2 linked regions of the Homo sapiens genome follow. The protein of the gene in region 1 interacts with the protein of each later gene in a pairwise test. Each region holds a gene or a part of one and is shown on either strand. Other genes may lie near its edges.

Region 1 (7,034 bases):
ATTTTTAGTAGAGATGGGGTTTCACCATGTTGTCCAGGCTGGTCTCGAACTCCTGACCTCAGATGATCCACCCACCTGGGCCTCCCAAAGTGCTAGGATTACAGGCATGAGCCACAGTGCCCAGCCACGGTGCAATATTTCTAAATTAACACTAGAAGTAACGAAAGGGTACTAGTAAGGACCACCACAATAAAGCCACACTTTAAAATAACTTCCAAGTAAAAGAAAATATCGAAATGCAGTTAACATGATTATTCCCCGATAGAACTGATTTTAAAAGAAACAAAAATGTGTACTCAATGATAATGAAAATGGTAAGTATCCAAAGCTTTGGGAAGTGACTATATGTAACAAGAAGTAAACACAGCCTTAAACGCTTTTATCATTAAAAAATAATAAATAAAAAATAAAAGAAGCTAAGAGAAAGAACAAAATTAACTTTACAAAATGAGAACGAACAGAATAGAGGTAACAGTAGAAAAAATTAAAAACCAACAAAAATAGCAAAATGTGTTGTTCAAACTGAGCACTGGCTCTCTGAAACATATTACACATAATCCTGCCTGGGCAATATAGCGAGACCCTGTTCTCCACAAAAAGGAAAGAAAAAAAAGACAATAAAAATAAAAATAAATAACCCATTATGTATGCATGGCTTCATTCTTCTTTTTTTCCTCAGCTCACATATAAATAGGTAAATTAAAGAACTATTACAGACTAATCACAATTCAAGCAAAAATTAGGATATTCCACATGGTCGGAACTTATGAAATTCAAATGACTGAATACATCTATAATTTTCTGACACACTAATATTTTCGTCGCTAAAAAAAGAGCCCTGAATGAAATAATGACTCTGATAGGTGACATTACTCGAAATATATCCACCAATCTGCACTTATAAATATCAAAAACCTCACAAGTTTTTATGGGTTAAAAAATTTTACGTAGTCCCAAAGATTATACCTTGCTAGAAGCTGTTTCCATCTCTAATGAGCAATTTGGCAATAAAGATCCAATGCCTTGAACAAAAGTGTATCTTTGTTTCTGGCAATCCCATGTCGCTGATAAATTTCTAAGAACTGGCCGGGCACTCAGGCCTGTAATCCCAGCACTTTGGGAGGCTGAGGTGGGCGAATCACTTGAGGCCAAGAGCTCAAGACTAGCCTGGCCAACATGGCAAAACCCAGTCTCTACTAAAAATACAAAAATTAGTGAGGCATGGTGGTGCACACCTGTAATCCCAGCTACTTGGGAGGCTGGGGCACAAGAATCACTTGAACCTGGGAGGCAGAGGTTGCAGTGAGCCAAGATCGCACTACTGCACTGTAGCCTGGGTGACAGAGCAAGACTCCATCCCAAAAAAAAAAAAAAAAAATGTAAAAATTTGCTTACCAGGGTGTTCATGGCAACAGTATTTTATTACATCTGTACCAAACAAACAAAATGCTCAACCATAAGGAACAACGAAATAAATCCTTGACTCTTCATTTTCTCTCATACCTCCACATCTAATCCAGGTGGCTCTATCTTCAAAACACGGGATATGCAGAATCTGGCCACTGCTTAGCACCTCCAGCACTGCCACCCAGTCCAAGCCACTGTTATCTTTCATCTGGATTTTTGCCTCCTTGCTGACTCTTGCCACCTCACACAATAGCCAGAGTAATCCTTTAAAACCCAAGTCAGATTATGTCAATCCTCTGCACAAAAATACTCCCCATCCCTCTTTAAAACAAAAGCCGCAAACCACAGGTCAGTGGTTATGAGGCAGTTTATGATTCTGTCCCAACCTCATGCCACCCCACTATGCTCTCATCTTCTACAGCCCTCTGCACTCCAGCTGTAAGTAAACCTACATATCAGGTACACTCATGCCTCAGGGCCTTTATAGTTACTGCTCCCTGTGCCTGAATATGTTTTTACCCCAGAGATCCTCATGACTTGCTCCTTCACTTTCTGCTTGAATTGTCACCTTGTCAGTGAGGTCATCCTTAAAACCCGATTTAAAATAGCAACTATAGATAGGCCTCCACCCCAGAATCTCTATCAGCCTTTGCACTCCATTTTTTTTCCATTACACTCAATGCCCTAACACACTATGTATTTTACTTGTCTGTTTACTATCTCTCCCAAATAGAATAATAAGGCCCCTAAAAGCAGGGATTTTTATCTTATTTCTTCACTGCTGTACCCCCAGAATAGTGTCCGGAAAAGCGCGTCCTCATTAAATATTTGAGTGATTTTTGGAATACTGGGTAATAATTAAAAATCATGTTATAAAAAATTTTAATGTGATGTTAGAAACTGGTGGAAATGGAAACAGCATGTTATCAAAGAATATGTAACCCATGGATCAAGAAGAAATCATATGGGAAATTAAAATACATTTTTCACTGAATGTTAACAAGAACACTTCAACATCAGTGGGATTCAGGTAAAGCAATTCTTGGAGGAAAATGTGTAGCTTTAAAACTTTGTATTAGAACATCAGAAAGGTTAAAATCAAAACAATATAAAAATGAATGTTCCAAATTTTGTGTCTAAAACAAATACATATATAAAAGACATTAACAGTTATTTCTGGTGGTAAAATTACAAGCAATTTGCGATTTTTATACCTGCTTTTCCGTATGTTAGTTTTTCTCTAGTGAACAGGTATTATTTTTATAATTAAAAAAAAACCCAGGTTTTTAAAAAACTTCCTTTCCCTCTGGTTGAATTCTAACTGCTGGCCTCTTCCTCTCCCTGTCTCTTAAAATACTTGCTCCTCTGGATTCCATCCTTGTCCTTCGTCAATCTATATTCATCCCTTAGTAATCTTATCCACTTTCTGGATTCATTTATAACTTGCAAATTGATTTCTCAGTTTTTTGTAATATCCTGAATTAGAGACTCATGTTTCCAACCACTTAAAGTATACTTCTATCCAGATGAAAATCCTGTAGCCACTCAAATTTAACAGGCCTGAAAGGAACTCATTATCATTTCCTAAAACTTGTTCTTTTCATCTTTAATACTGGTTAAAGACATCACTATGTACCCAGGTCAATTCTATCAGTTCTAGCTTAGAAATCTCAATCAAATCTAACTTTTCTTCTCCCTCACCAATGCCATGTTTTCAACATAGGCATCTTCTATCAGTTATATTTTAAAAGAATCCTAACTTATTCTCCTGCTATCACACTCTCCTCCTTAAGAACTGAATCCTGATCAGGGTTGCTGCATACAGCCTGAAGTCTGCACCACTAGAGAAGGTTGCCATCCATGTAAACTACGAGTGTTAATTGTGCCCAATGGCCTAATCATGATACTCCCCCTGCTTTCAAACTTCATTAGATAAAACAAACCTACAGCACTATAAAATCTTTCAACTGGCTCCACTTTCTATTTTTCTAGCTTCAGGTTCTCATCATTCCTCTATGCACCCTACAATCCAGACATATTTAACTTTTCAGTATGCCCTATCAAAACCCACACTTTTGTGGATTTTTCTTTAGTCTGTACTGCCCTCTCTCCGTACAACTTCTAAATCCTTCAAACTACAGTTCAAACGTACCCTCCTCTGTGAAGCATTTTTTGACCAGCCTAGACAAAGATACTTCACTAAGTGTTTTGTTAACAGTTCTATTACAGAATTTGTTGCATTGTATAATGATCACATATATCCATCTCTCAAATTCAATGGAGAGTTGAGCAGTGCATAAAGAAGCTCCATATTTGTACCCTCAGTATCTATAATGTCCAGCCCCTAAAAGGGGTTAAGTTCATGTTTATTAATGCTATACTTAACCATATGCATTAGTACAACTTTTTAAAAGTAAATTAAAATGAGTTTAAAAAAGAAGTTACATGTTCAGCTGTCAATCTATCTATAATCCATGTGGCAGAAAGAACTGATGTGACTATTCTTGATTCCTACACTTCCTGGTGTTTAAACCTTTGTATAATTCCCTCCCCTTGCACGTGAACTGGACCTATGACTTGCTTCTAATGAATGAAATACAGCAAAGGCAATGGGTTGTATGTGATTACATGTACACGATTATGTAAGAACATAGCACCAGTTCACCTTTCCTTTGCTTACTTTGAAGAAGCAAGCTGCTCTGAACCTAACAGACACAAGGAAATAAATTCAGCCAATAACCCAAGGAAGTCTGTGGGCAGACCTTTCCCCAGTTGAGTCACTAGATAACAACCCTGCCCTGACCTACACTTTGACTGCAGTCTTAAAGAGGACACAGCTAAGTTGTGCCCAGCCTCTTGACCCACAGAAATTGCAAGGCAATAAACGTGTTGCTTAGAACCACTAAATTTGCAGTCATTTGTGAATAAGCAGCTTAGAAAACGAATAAAATCAGAACCTAAGGTATTTCTGAACCCTTTGTTCACAAAAAGGCCTATGTTTTGTCCAATTTCTTAACAAATAAATGTCATGTACATGCAAAATTAAAACACAGACTAACATTTCAAATAACAGTTCTTAAGAATATTCACATAAAACTTAGGAAGTAATTTGCTACATAAAGCAGTTCCTACACTCTCTTTTAACACATTTGCCAATATACCCAATTATACATAATACTACATGTAATAAGTTTAATATTAGGGCAATTCTCCTTAAAACCCAAATAATAATAAATAGTTTAAAAGTTGATATCTCATTAATGATATTTGGTAATCAGAAGAACTTAGTTACTGGTCACCAGGCAAAGCGATCAAATTGGAGGAGAGCAAGAGACTTGTTGGAGATGTGCCTGAGGGAGTAAGACACTATCTTACAACAACAGGGCTCTTACTCCCTCAGGCACTGCACCAGCCAGCAAAGCATCAAAATACCAGGTTCTTAGGTCACGCTGCTCTCAGATCAGGTGATGCCCTGTGCAACTCACCAATCCTCCCCACCTTGCAGTCAAGAATAATTCCAAAAAATTCCCAAAGCAGAAACTTCCATGACACAGGCCACACTTACACACAGCAAAACATGTAACACGAAGGTATGAAATTACAAGTGAGGAACAATAACCACCAAAATTCTTATTACTTCAGGAGTGGCAGGGGTTGTGGTTAGAAGGCTCATTTTTCTTAGAAAGAGGCAAACATTCCTCTTCGGCCACTCCCCATAAAAGCCTTCAATGGCACAAAATAACATTCAGGAATAGGAAATAGATTAATTACAATATCCCAAATTCAAACATTTTGGCACTTGATATTGGTAAGAAGTGATAACTGAGACCGATTCCATAATGGTTAATTGATGAAGATAACCTAACACCATAAAACTTCACATCTGCCTTAAAAATTAAGAGAAATCTTCCTAGAAATACAGGTCTTATTCAACATATTCAGTTTTAAGAGATAACCCACACTCCTTCAATATAAGAAAACATGTTTCACAAGTAGCAAGGCACCTGAGTTACAATCAGACTACTGAAATACTCATGAGCAAGCCACACCCAAAAAAGCTCAAGAAAATCAGGAGGCCAAAAGCAACCCAGCACCACTGGTTGTCTTAGATTAAGTCATTTTACATTTTCACTTCTGGACTCAAGGATACATTATAGAAGTCCACACGATTTCTCTGGAAATAATCTCCATGTATTGGTATATTTCTATAGCCCAATTCATCTACCCCATCCTTGCTGCATCATTAAAGGCTATTTGACCACTCATATTATGCTCTTATGAACAACAGCTACTTGACAGTGGAAAAAAAAACGTAGACGTAAATTAAAGCCAAACAAACCCTAAAATACCATCAACATTTTTAAATATTAGGAAATACCCTTAAGACCTGTTTTAAAACAAAGGTGATGGACGACACTAGCAGTAGTCAAGAAAGCGTCTGTTCACTTTAACACTCCTCAGTCTGAAAAGAATAATAAGGACAAGATTTACTTCACCTAAAAACTCCTATATAAATATAATCACATTCTGATGTCTGGCAACTCAATTCTAGGAAATTTCTACACACTGAAATATCTGGATTAGGCATTTTTCTTCCAGTTCTCTAGAGAGAATAAGAGTGTATATAGCCAAAACAGATGTCCAAATGACATCAAAACATAAAACCAACACAGAAAACTTCCTCGTTCAATGTGGCAATTCATTATGAGAGAACTACTAACAATTCCACTTGCTAGACTCTTAAGTGTTAAAAATAAAAGGGGGGGACTGTTTTTCATTTTCTATAAATTACATGAGAGCTCACAAGAGAATAATTTTGAATCTTATTAGTACCACATTTTCTTATTAGGAGACGTTAATAATATAAACAACAATTAAAACAACAGTTTTACAAAAAACAATACGAACTTTCCACTAATTCTGAAATAATCCTTTTATCAATTTTCAGATGCAGTTATTTGTATATAACCATTTATACAATTTGTAACTGAATAAACACAATAATGTTATAATAGATACTAAAAAGTTAAGTAAATGTGAACTAGTCAAGTCTTTTTTAATTATAAGATTCTTCATTTAGCTCCCTAAATCTCAAGATGATGAGAAACATGCTTCTATTGTTTTCCTAATAACCCGTCCACTAAAATATAGGTAAAAATCTCAGTAAGGCAATGCCACTAAGATGGGTTTTTACGTAAATGTATTCCATCTCCCTGCCTCAACAGAGATTTCAGGATGTGGCACTTTCATCTGATCCTGTCATATAATAAGAACAGGTAATTTCTCTGATGTCTTTCCAGCAATTCTCAACTGAGGTTCCTCATCTGAATCACCAAACACAGGAAATTATTTCAGTGACTTTTCTCAATTGTTCCAAGAATGATACATAACTAAAACCGTTCTAAATGCACTGGAGCTAAAAGTTAAAATTCATTGCACACTACGGCACAATTGTCTCCAGAAAGCCGGGTGAGAAAGGCTGCTGTAAGTTCCTCAGAAAGTGTCACTGTACTACTAGGCCCCAGTCACCCAACCCCAACAGCACTAAAAGAACTATAATGAGTGCACAAATCTAGAACTTAGATAAGAAAAAAGATAAATGCTTTATCTCCAACTTTAAGCAACTA
Region 2 (7,034 bases), on another chromosome or scaffold:
TGCATTTAATTTACCATGTATTGACTGAGTCAGGAATGTGCTAGGTTTTTTACGTATGTAGGGTCATTTATCTTTCCAACAACACTATGAGGTGATTATCTTCTGTTTTATTATTGAGGTAGTTAAAACTGGAGAGATAACATAACTTGTTCACACAATGAGTTAAGATTAACTATAACTGCGACTTCAGTATAACTTCAGTTATAACTGTCTAATTTCACTATAAAATATTGTCTCTTGGGTCTGTGGTCGTATCTTTTATTACCATGTATGGTACTCAGCGTGCATTCTTAAAATGAATAGCCATGCTCTTAAGAGTCTGTATACTGTAGCTGATTTCTTTTAGAGAATAGGTACATTTATTATTTTACATAATCCAAGGTTCATAGTATGCGTGGTGATGACTAGAATCCCAACACTGTATTTTCTATCTTCCTTTTGTTTTCTTGTATTTTAAATACAAGAAAGTTTAATAACTGAAAAGTTCAAGAGAATTGCCCAGGTGTACAAGAATTATAAGTGACAGAGCTATAATTAGGAACACATTGTTAATGACTTCAATTCACTTTTGCTTCTAATGCTGCCCTGTTATCTTTGCTGTCATTATCCCTTATTCTTCCCATCTTAAAGAAAATAACAAGAATAGTATATAAACTGTAAATAACACATTTATGTTTATGATTGTTATATATGAAAACAAAGGCTTGCATAGATGGCATAGAAATGGGCTTTATTAAACAATTGAAACATAGTGAGAGATAAAGGAAAGTCACCACAAAGCCTTGCTTAATCATCAGAGTAAGTGGACTGATGTCAATTTAGCTCCCCTTGCCCTGTTAATCTTCTCTAGGATGTTGATGAAAAAAATAAGTCTGACAGCTACGGTTCTCTGTGGTCATTGTCTATACGTATTTCTCCATGGCTTCCACCAGTAATAATCAGAGGCAGTTGCTTTGTTTGATGTTATGTATAGAATACGTAATATCAGCATTGTAGAAATGGTACTTTGAAAAAATAAGGTAGTATAAATCAATTAGGAGGAGCACAGGCTTTGGTGTCAGTGCACCTTAGTTTGAGGTCTGTTTGTTTGTTTATTTTGAGACAGTCTTGCCCTGTAGCCCAGGCTGGAGTGCAGTGGCATGATCTTGGCTCACTGCAACCTCTGCCTCCCGGGTTCAAGCGATTCTCCTGCCTCAGCCTCCTGAGTAGCTGGGATTACAGGTGCACACCACCATGCCCGGCTAATTTTTGTATTTTTAGTAGAGACCGGTTTCACCATGTTGGTCAGGCTGGTCTTAAACTCCTGACCTCGTGATCTGCCTGTCTTGGCCTCCCAAAGTTCTGGGATTACAGGTGTGAGCCACCACACCCGGCCTTGGGTTTTATTTAGTTTGCTTTTTTAGACCTGGCTCTGTCTTTTGCTAGCTGTCTGACCTTGATCTGGTTATTTCACCGCTGAGTGTCAGAGAAGGGGATAGGTCATGAGAATTAACAGTAAGAGAGTTATTGGGAGGCTGGCATGTGCTGTTACACATAACCAACTCTTGTCCTAGTGCTTAGTGTATAGGAAGTACTTGGTGTCCTCTTTTCTCCTCCTTACCCCAGTCTCTATTATCTTAAGTTTTTAATTTGCCTTTTCTATTCTAGGTGGATTGTAGACATGGAAGGTGCACCAGGTACCTTATATGAAGGGGAAAAATTTCAACTTCTATTTAAATTTAGTAGTCGATATCCTTTTGACTCTCCTCAGGTAATTGCCTTGCTTTAAATTTTTTTTTTTGTATTTTTAGATAGCTAAATGCCAGAGATGTTTGACTCAGTAAAAACATATAAATCAGTTATACGTATGTAGATGGATTTGTTATTTCATTATCTTATTTGTCATATAATCAAGATATGAACATTACACTTTATTGGGATTAGGGCTTTACTGCATTTTGCTTCTAAAATTGTTTCATTTGTTGCTTATCCATAAATGCTAACAGAAAAGGGAATAGAAATCTAACCAGGCCTCTAGGCCAGGGGTCCCCAACCCCCATGCTGTGGACTAGTACTGGTCCATGGCCTGTTAGGAGTCGGGCCACACAGGAGGTGAGCAGCATTACTGCCTGAGCTCTGCCTCCTGTCAGATCAGCGATGGCATTAGATTCTCATAGGAGTACGAGCCTTATTGTGAACTGCACATGTGAGGGATCTAGATAGCACGCTCTTTATGAGAATCTAATGCCTGATGATCTGAGATGGAACAGTTCCATCCCAAAACCATCATCCAATCCCCAACCCCATCCATGGAAAAATTGTCTTCCATCACACCGGTCCCTTGTGTCAAAAAGATTGGGGACCACTGCTCTAGGCCATCGGAGAAGTTGACATTTTGGAATAACTGGAGGCACTTCTCCTAGGTCAGATGGTAGAATCACATGGTGAAGAGAAAAGTTCTCTGTTGGAAGGAGTACTATGATTTTGCATTGACATGCTGTCCTTGCAGCCTTTTAGTACAGGAAGGGCAGAGTACATCATCAGATGTTAAATATCTAAACATCAGCACAAAGTCTGATTATTATAATTTGATGCCCAGTGAGTTTAGTTAATAGCTTAATACTTAGACAAGGGATAATGGTGGTAGAGAAATGTTTTTTGAGAGCTATTTAACTATAGTAAATGATTAATCAGGTTAGAGAAAGGAAGACTCTAGGATGACTTCCAGGTTTCTGGCTTGGTAAGATAAGTAAATGAGTTACTATAATTACTTATTCTTCAGAGAATTATAACAAAGCACTTCATTTTTAAAATTTGAGGCTTGTGAGATCCGTTGGCTAAAATGGTAAGACATGATGCCAGCTCTCTCTAGTATTGCTAGCAAATGAGCTATTCTGGAAAATACAACCAAATACCTGAAATATTTCCCAGATACTGAAAATTTTGCTTGTTGGGTGCTGAAATGTACTATTTGGAGGAAAATCATATTTCATTGTCACTTTAAACAATATACCAAACACAGCTTAATCTTTTCTTAGTTATGTAAGAGAAGAGATAAAGTCAGTTATTGTATCATGCTATAAGTAAAGAGATAATTGTTTTAAAGCATAGATTTAAATGGATACTGACTCCTTAAGTTCTAAAATTTTCATATGAGCAGAAAACTACCAAGACTTTTAGGACTTATTTTTATCATTTTCATAAAAGTTAAAGTGAAAGGGTATGTGCTATTGTGACCTCTAGATGTCTACAATAAGCATTTGTAGACTATAATAAAAAGAACAAACATCTTCTCTCCAGAAGATTGTCATCACTTTTGTTGCTTTCTGGCTGGCCAGCATCATTTCTGACTGTAAATGTGTGGAGACAACAGGATCTCAGTCTGTTTTCATCATCAGCCTATTTGTCTACCTTCAACTAAGTTCAATGATGGTATGGGAAGGAAGAATATTTCACACCAATTCAAAAGCTTTTGACTAGGGAGATATTGGGGGAAGGCTTACTCTGGGAGCTTACAGATTTTTCACCAGAGGAAAATAATATTTCTGTAAGCATGAAACCAAGTCAAAAATGTGTTCTCTAAACTCTTTCCTTAATATTTAATTCTAAATCAAATATCAAACTTAAACATTATGTTGAATTTCTTCTTTAATATTTCTGTAAGTTACAGCATTTGTAATAAATTCTCCCTATTGTCCTATTTCAAATTCATTTTATCCTCCTTCCCTGATTTTATTTGTCTGTTCTTCTAACATTGGTGTTATCCAGGTTCTTTATTCAGCACTGTGTTACTCTTCTCACTCTTCTTTCACCTTCAGTCACCTTAAGCAGCTAACTCCCAGATCTACAGCTCTGGGAACACTTCTTTTTTTAAGGCTTAATTTCACACCCTTGTTGAAATACTTGAGTACCTCCAGACATCTCAAATTTAACACAACTAAACTTGATCTTTCCAATAACAAAGAACATTTTGTTTTTCTTTATCCTGGGTTACTGTCCACCTGTCTATTTTTGTGCTCAGTTTTTCTCTTTTCCACACTCCTCCCTCCTACATTTGAAAGGTAGCCCATTCTTTTCTTAATGTCAGTGCTGTAGTCTGGTTTTTTGTTTGTTTGTTTTTGTTTTGTTTTTTTTGAGACAGCGTCTCGCTTTGTCACCCAGGTTGGAGTGCAGTGGTGCAATCTTGGCTCACTGCAACTGCTGCCACCTGGGCTCAAGTGATCCTACCATATCAGCCTCCGAAGCAGCTGGGACTACAGGTGCATGCCACCACACCCAGCTAATTTTTTTTTTTTTTTTTTTTTTTTTTTTTTTTGCAGTTGCAAGATTTAATAGAGTGAAAACAGAGCTCCCATACAAAGGGAGGGGACCCAAAGGGGGTTGCTGTTGCCAGCTCGAATGTCTGGGTTTATTTCCTGATCGTTGTCCCTCCCTCTGTGCTCTCAGGCAACAGATGATTGGCTATTTCTTTACCTCCTGTTTTTGCCTAATTAGCATTTTAGTGAGCTCTCTTTACTATCTGATTGGTCAGGTGTGAGCTAAGTTGCAAGCCCTGTGTTTAAAGGTGGAAGCGGTCACCTTCCCAGCTAGGCTTAGGGATTCTTTGTCGGCCTAGGAAATCCAGCTAGTCCTGTCTCTCAGTGCCCCCTCTCAACAGGAAAACCCAAGTGCTGTTGGGGAGGTTGGCCGACAACCACTCTAACTGCTTCCCGCTGAATTGGGACGTAGTAGGGGTTGTGCAGTTGAGATTTCCTCAGGAGGGGTGCCTTCAATGTCATTAACATTGGAGCATGGGCTAGCAGGCCGGTCCAGGGGTCTGTGGTAGATTTTAGTCATGGACTGTCTGGGGCTCCATTTGAAGAACGATTTGTAGTTTTACAGCTTCAATTCTGGAAGAGACAAACTTAACAAGGAGGTTAAAGATAGAGGGATTGAAATGTATGGCCTGCAGTGCAGGGGATTATTTCTTTGGCACACTTTACAGGCCTTGACTATCTGCTTGATAGTTTTGAAAAGGTCTGGTCCAGTAAATAATGATTTGGCCATCTGATGGCACACCCAGCTAATTTTTATATTTTTTGTAGAGATGGGGTCTTGCCATGTTGCCCAGACTAGTCTCGAGCTCCTGGGCTCAAGCGATCAGCCCACCTCCTTGGCCTCCCAAAGTGCTGGGATTACATGTGTGAGCCACCATGCCTGGCCTAGTCCAGGTTTTTATCTTTTATTTGAACCATTACAGTAGCCTTTAGTTCTTTGAATTCCTACATCCTTTCACGGTGCCAATAGATTTGTTTGAAGGCACAGTTATCTCACTGGTTACATACCACACACATGGACATGCACACACATCCCCCCCCCCCCACACACACACTCCCACACCCCACTCCACCCCCCCACCACACACACACTCTGTCTCACTCCACCATCCCCAGAATTCCTCACCCCCTGACAGTAAAACCTCTTAATGTTTATTTCCTATGGAATCAAGTTTTTAGCCTGGCATTCAAGTCCCTGTATAGTCACATCCAAACTTAACTTTTTCTGCACCTGCATGCATTCTGTATGGTAATATTTCTATATAGTACTTCATAATTTAACTTCCATTCTGATTTTGTTTTCTAACATCTTTTAATGAAGTGGTTAGGGGAGGTAGATTCATCCTCATTTTATATGTGAAGAAATTGAAACTTGTAGAAGTGAAGTGCCTTGTTCACGTTTTAATACCTAGTTTATAGGACAGTCAAGACCCAAACCCAAGTCTTTCCTTTCCTCCTTTGCCATACTGCCAATTAGATGCGAGTACCGGTGTGGAAAAAATGCCTATTTATCTATGTAGTAATTTTCTCTCTGAAAGTGAAAGATTATATGTGGAATGAATGGTACCTTTGAAAGCTCTAGGTCAGTTATTCTCACTCTTTTTGAAATATAAGGATTCCTTTTTTAATTTACTTTTTGGTGGGGTGGGGGTGCGGAGACAGAGTCTCCCTTTGTCATCTACCTATGCTGTGGTGTAATCATAGCTCACTGCAGCCTCCAACTCCTGGGCTCAAGTGATCCTTCCACCTCAGCCTCCAGAGTAGCAGGGACTACAGCCATCTGCCGCCATGCCTGGCTTGGTTTTTTTATTTTGTTTTTTTGTTTGTTTGTTTGTTTGTTTGTTTGTTTTTTATTTTTTTGAGACAGAGTCTCGCTCTGTTGCCCAGGCTGGAGTGCAGTGGTGTGATCTCTGCTCACTGCAACCTCTGCCTCCTGGGCTTAAACCATTCTCCCACCTCAGCCTCTCTGAGTAGCTGCAACTACAGGTATGCACCACCATGCCTGGCTTATTTTTTTTTGTATTTTTGGTAGAAACAAGGTTTCACCATGTTGGTCCAGCTGGTCTTGAACTCCTGTCCTAAAGTGATCTGCTCGCCTCGGCCTGTCAAAGTACTGGGATCATAGGCACGCCCAGTGAGGATTCCTTTTTAATATCAGTTAATTCTGTAGTCCCTCACATGGCATAGAGGTTGTATATTCTAATATCCATTGATTGGGAAAATGGCAGAACTACTCTGAGGCCAGTAATACGTTAAAATTTTTTAAAATGTATTTATACATAATCTATATAGTTTTAACATAATTATAATGGGTCAAACATCAATGCTTGATGTGCTTATAGACTTCAAGATTTTTCCAATAACTGAAACTTTGCAGAGATCCACTGCCCTGGGAAAGTGGCTAGAACCAGTCCTCTAGGGCAGTAAAATTCCCCCAAAATTTTATTTGATGAAACTCTGTAGCATTAGCACTTGTTACCTAAATTAGTCTTTCATCTTTCTGGCTGGGCATGGTACTCATGCCTGTAATCCAAGCACTTTGAGAGGCCAAGGCAGCCCAGGAGTTTTGGGACCAGCCTGGGCAACGTAGGGCAACCCCATCTCTAATAAAAAAAAGAAAGAAAAGTCTTTCATCTTTCTATGCAATGAACAGTACTGAGTTTATCACTAGTTACAAGAGTAGAATTTGGAAAATATTTCTAGAATAGATGAATCTCATTGTGAAATTACTGCTTTTGT

The links. Proteins that work in one complex are often made in the same cells at the same time.
Region 2: the proteins of ZNRF2 (region 1) and UBE2W interact in a two-hybrid assay, tested with the Homo sapiens proteins (one study listed by BioGRID).

What each region holds. Positions count from the first base shown.
Region 1 is NC_000007.14:30,287,593-30,294,626, reverse strand, and holds part of ZNRF2 (E3 ubiquitin-protein ligase ZNRF2), read right to left. Parts: intron 5,870-7,034; exon of another isoform or gene 5,795-5,869; intron 4,834-5,794; exon of another isoform or gene 4,737-4,833; intron 1-4,736. UniProt on the Homo sapiens protein: E3 ubiquitin-protein ligase that plays a role in the establishment and maintenance of neuronal transmission and plasticity. Ubiquitinates the Na(+)/K(+) ATPase alpha-1 subunit/ATP1A1 and thereby influences its endocytosis and/or degradation.
Region 2 is NC_000008.11:73,819,863-73,826,896, reverse strand, and holds part of UBE2W (ubiquitin-conjugating enzyme E2 W), read left to right. Parts: intron 1-1,647; coding exon 1,648-1,750; intron 1,751-7,034. UniProt on the Homo sapiens protein: Accepts ubiquitin from the E1 complex and catalyzes its covalent attachment to other proteins.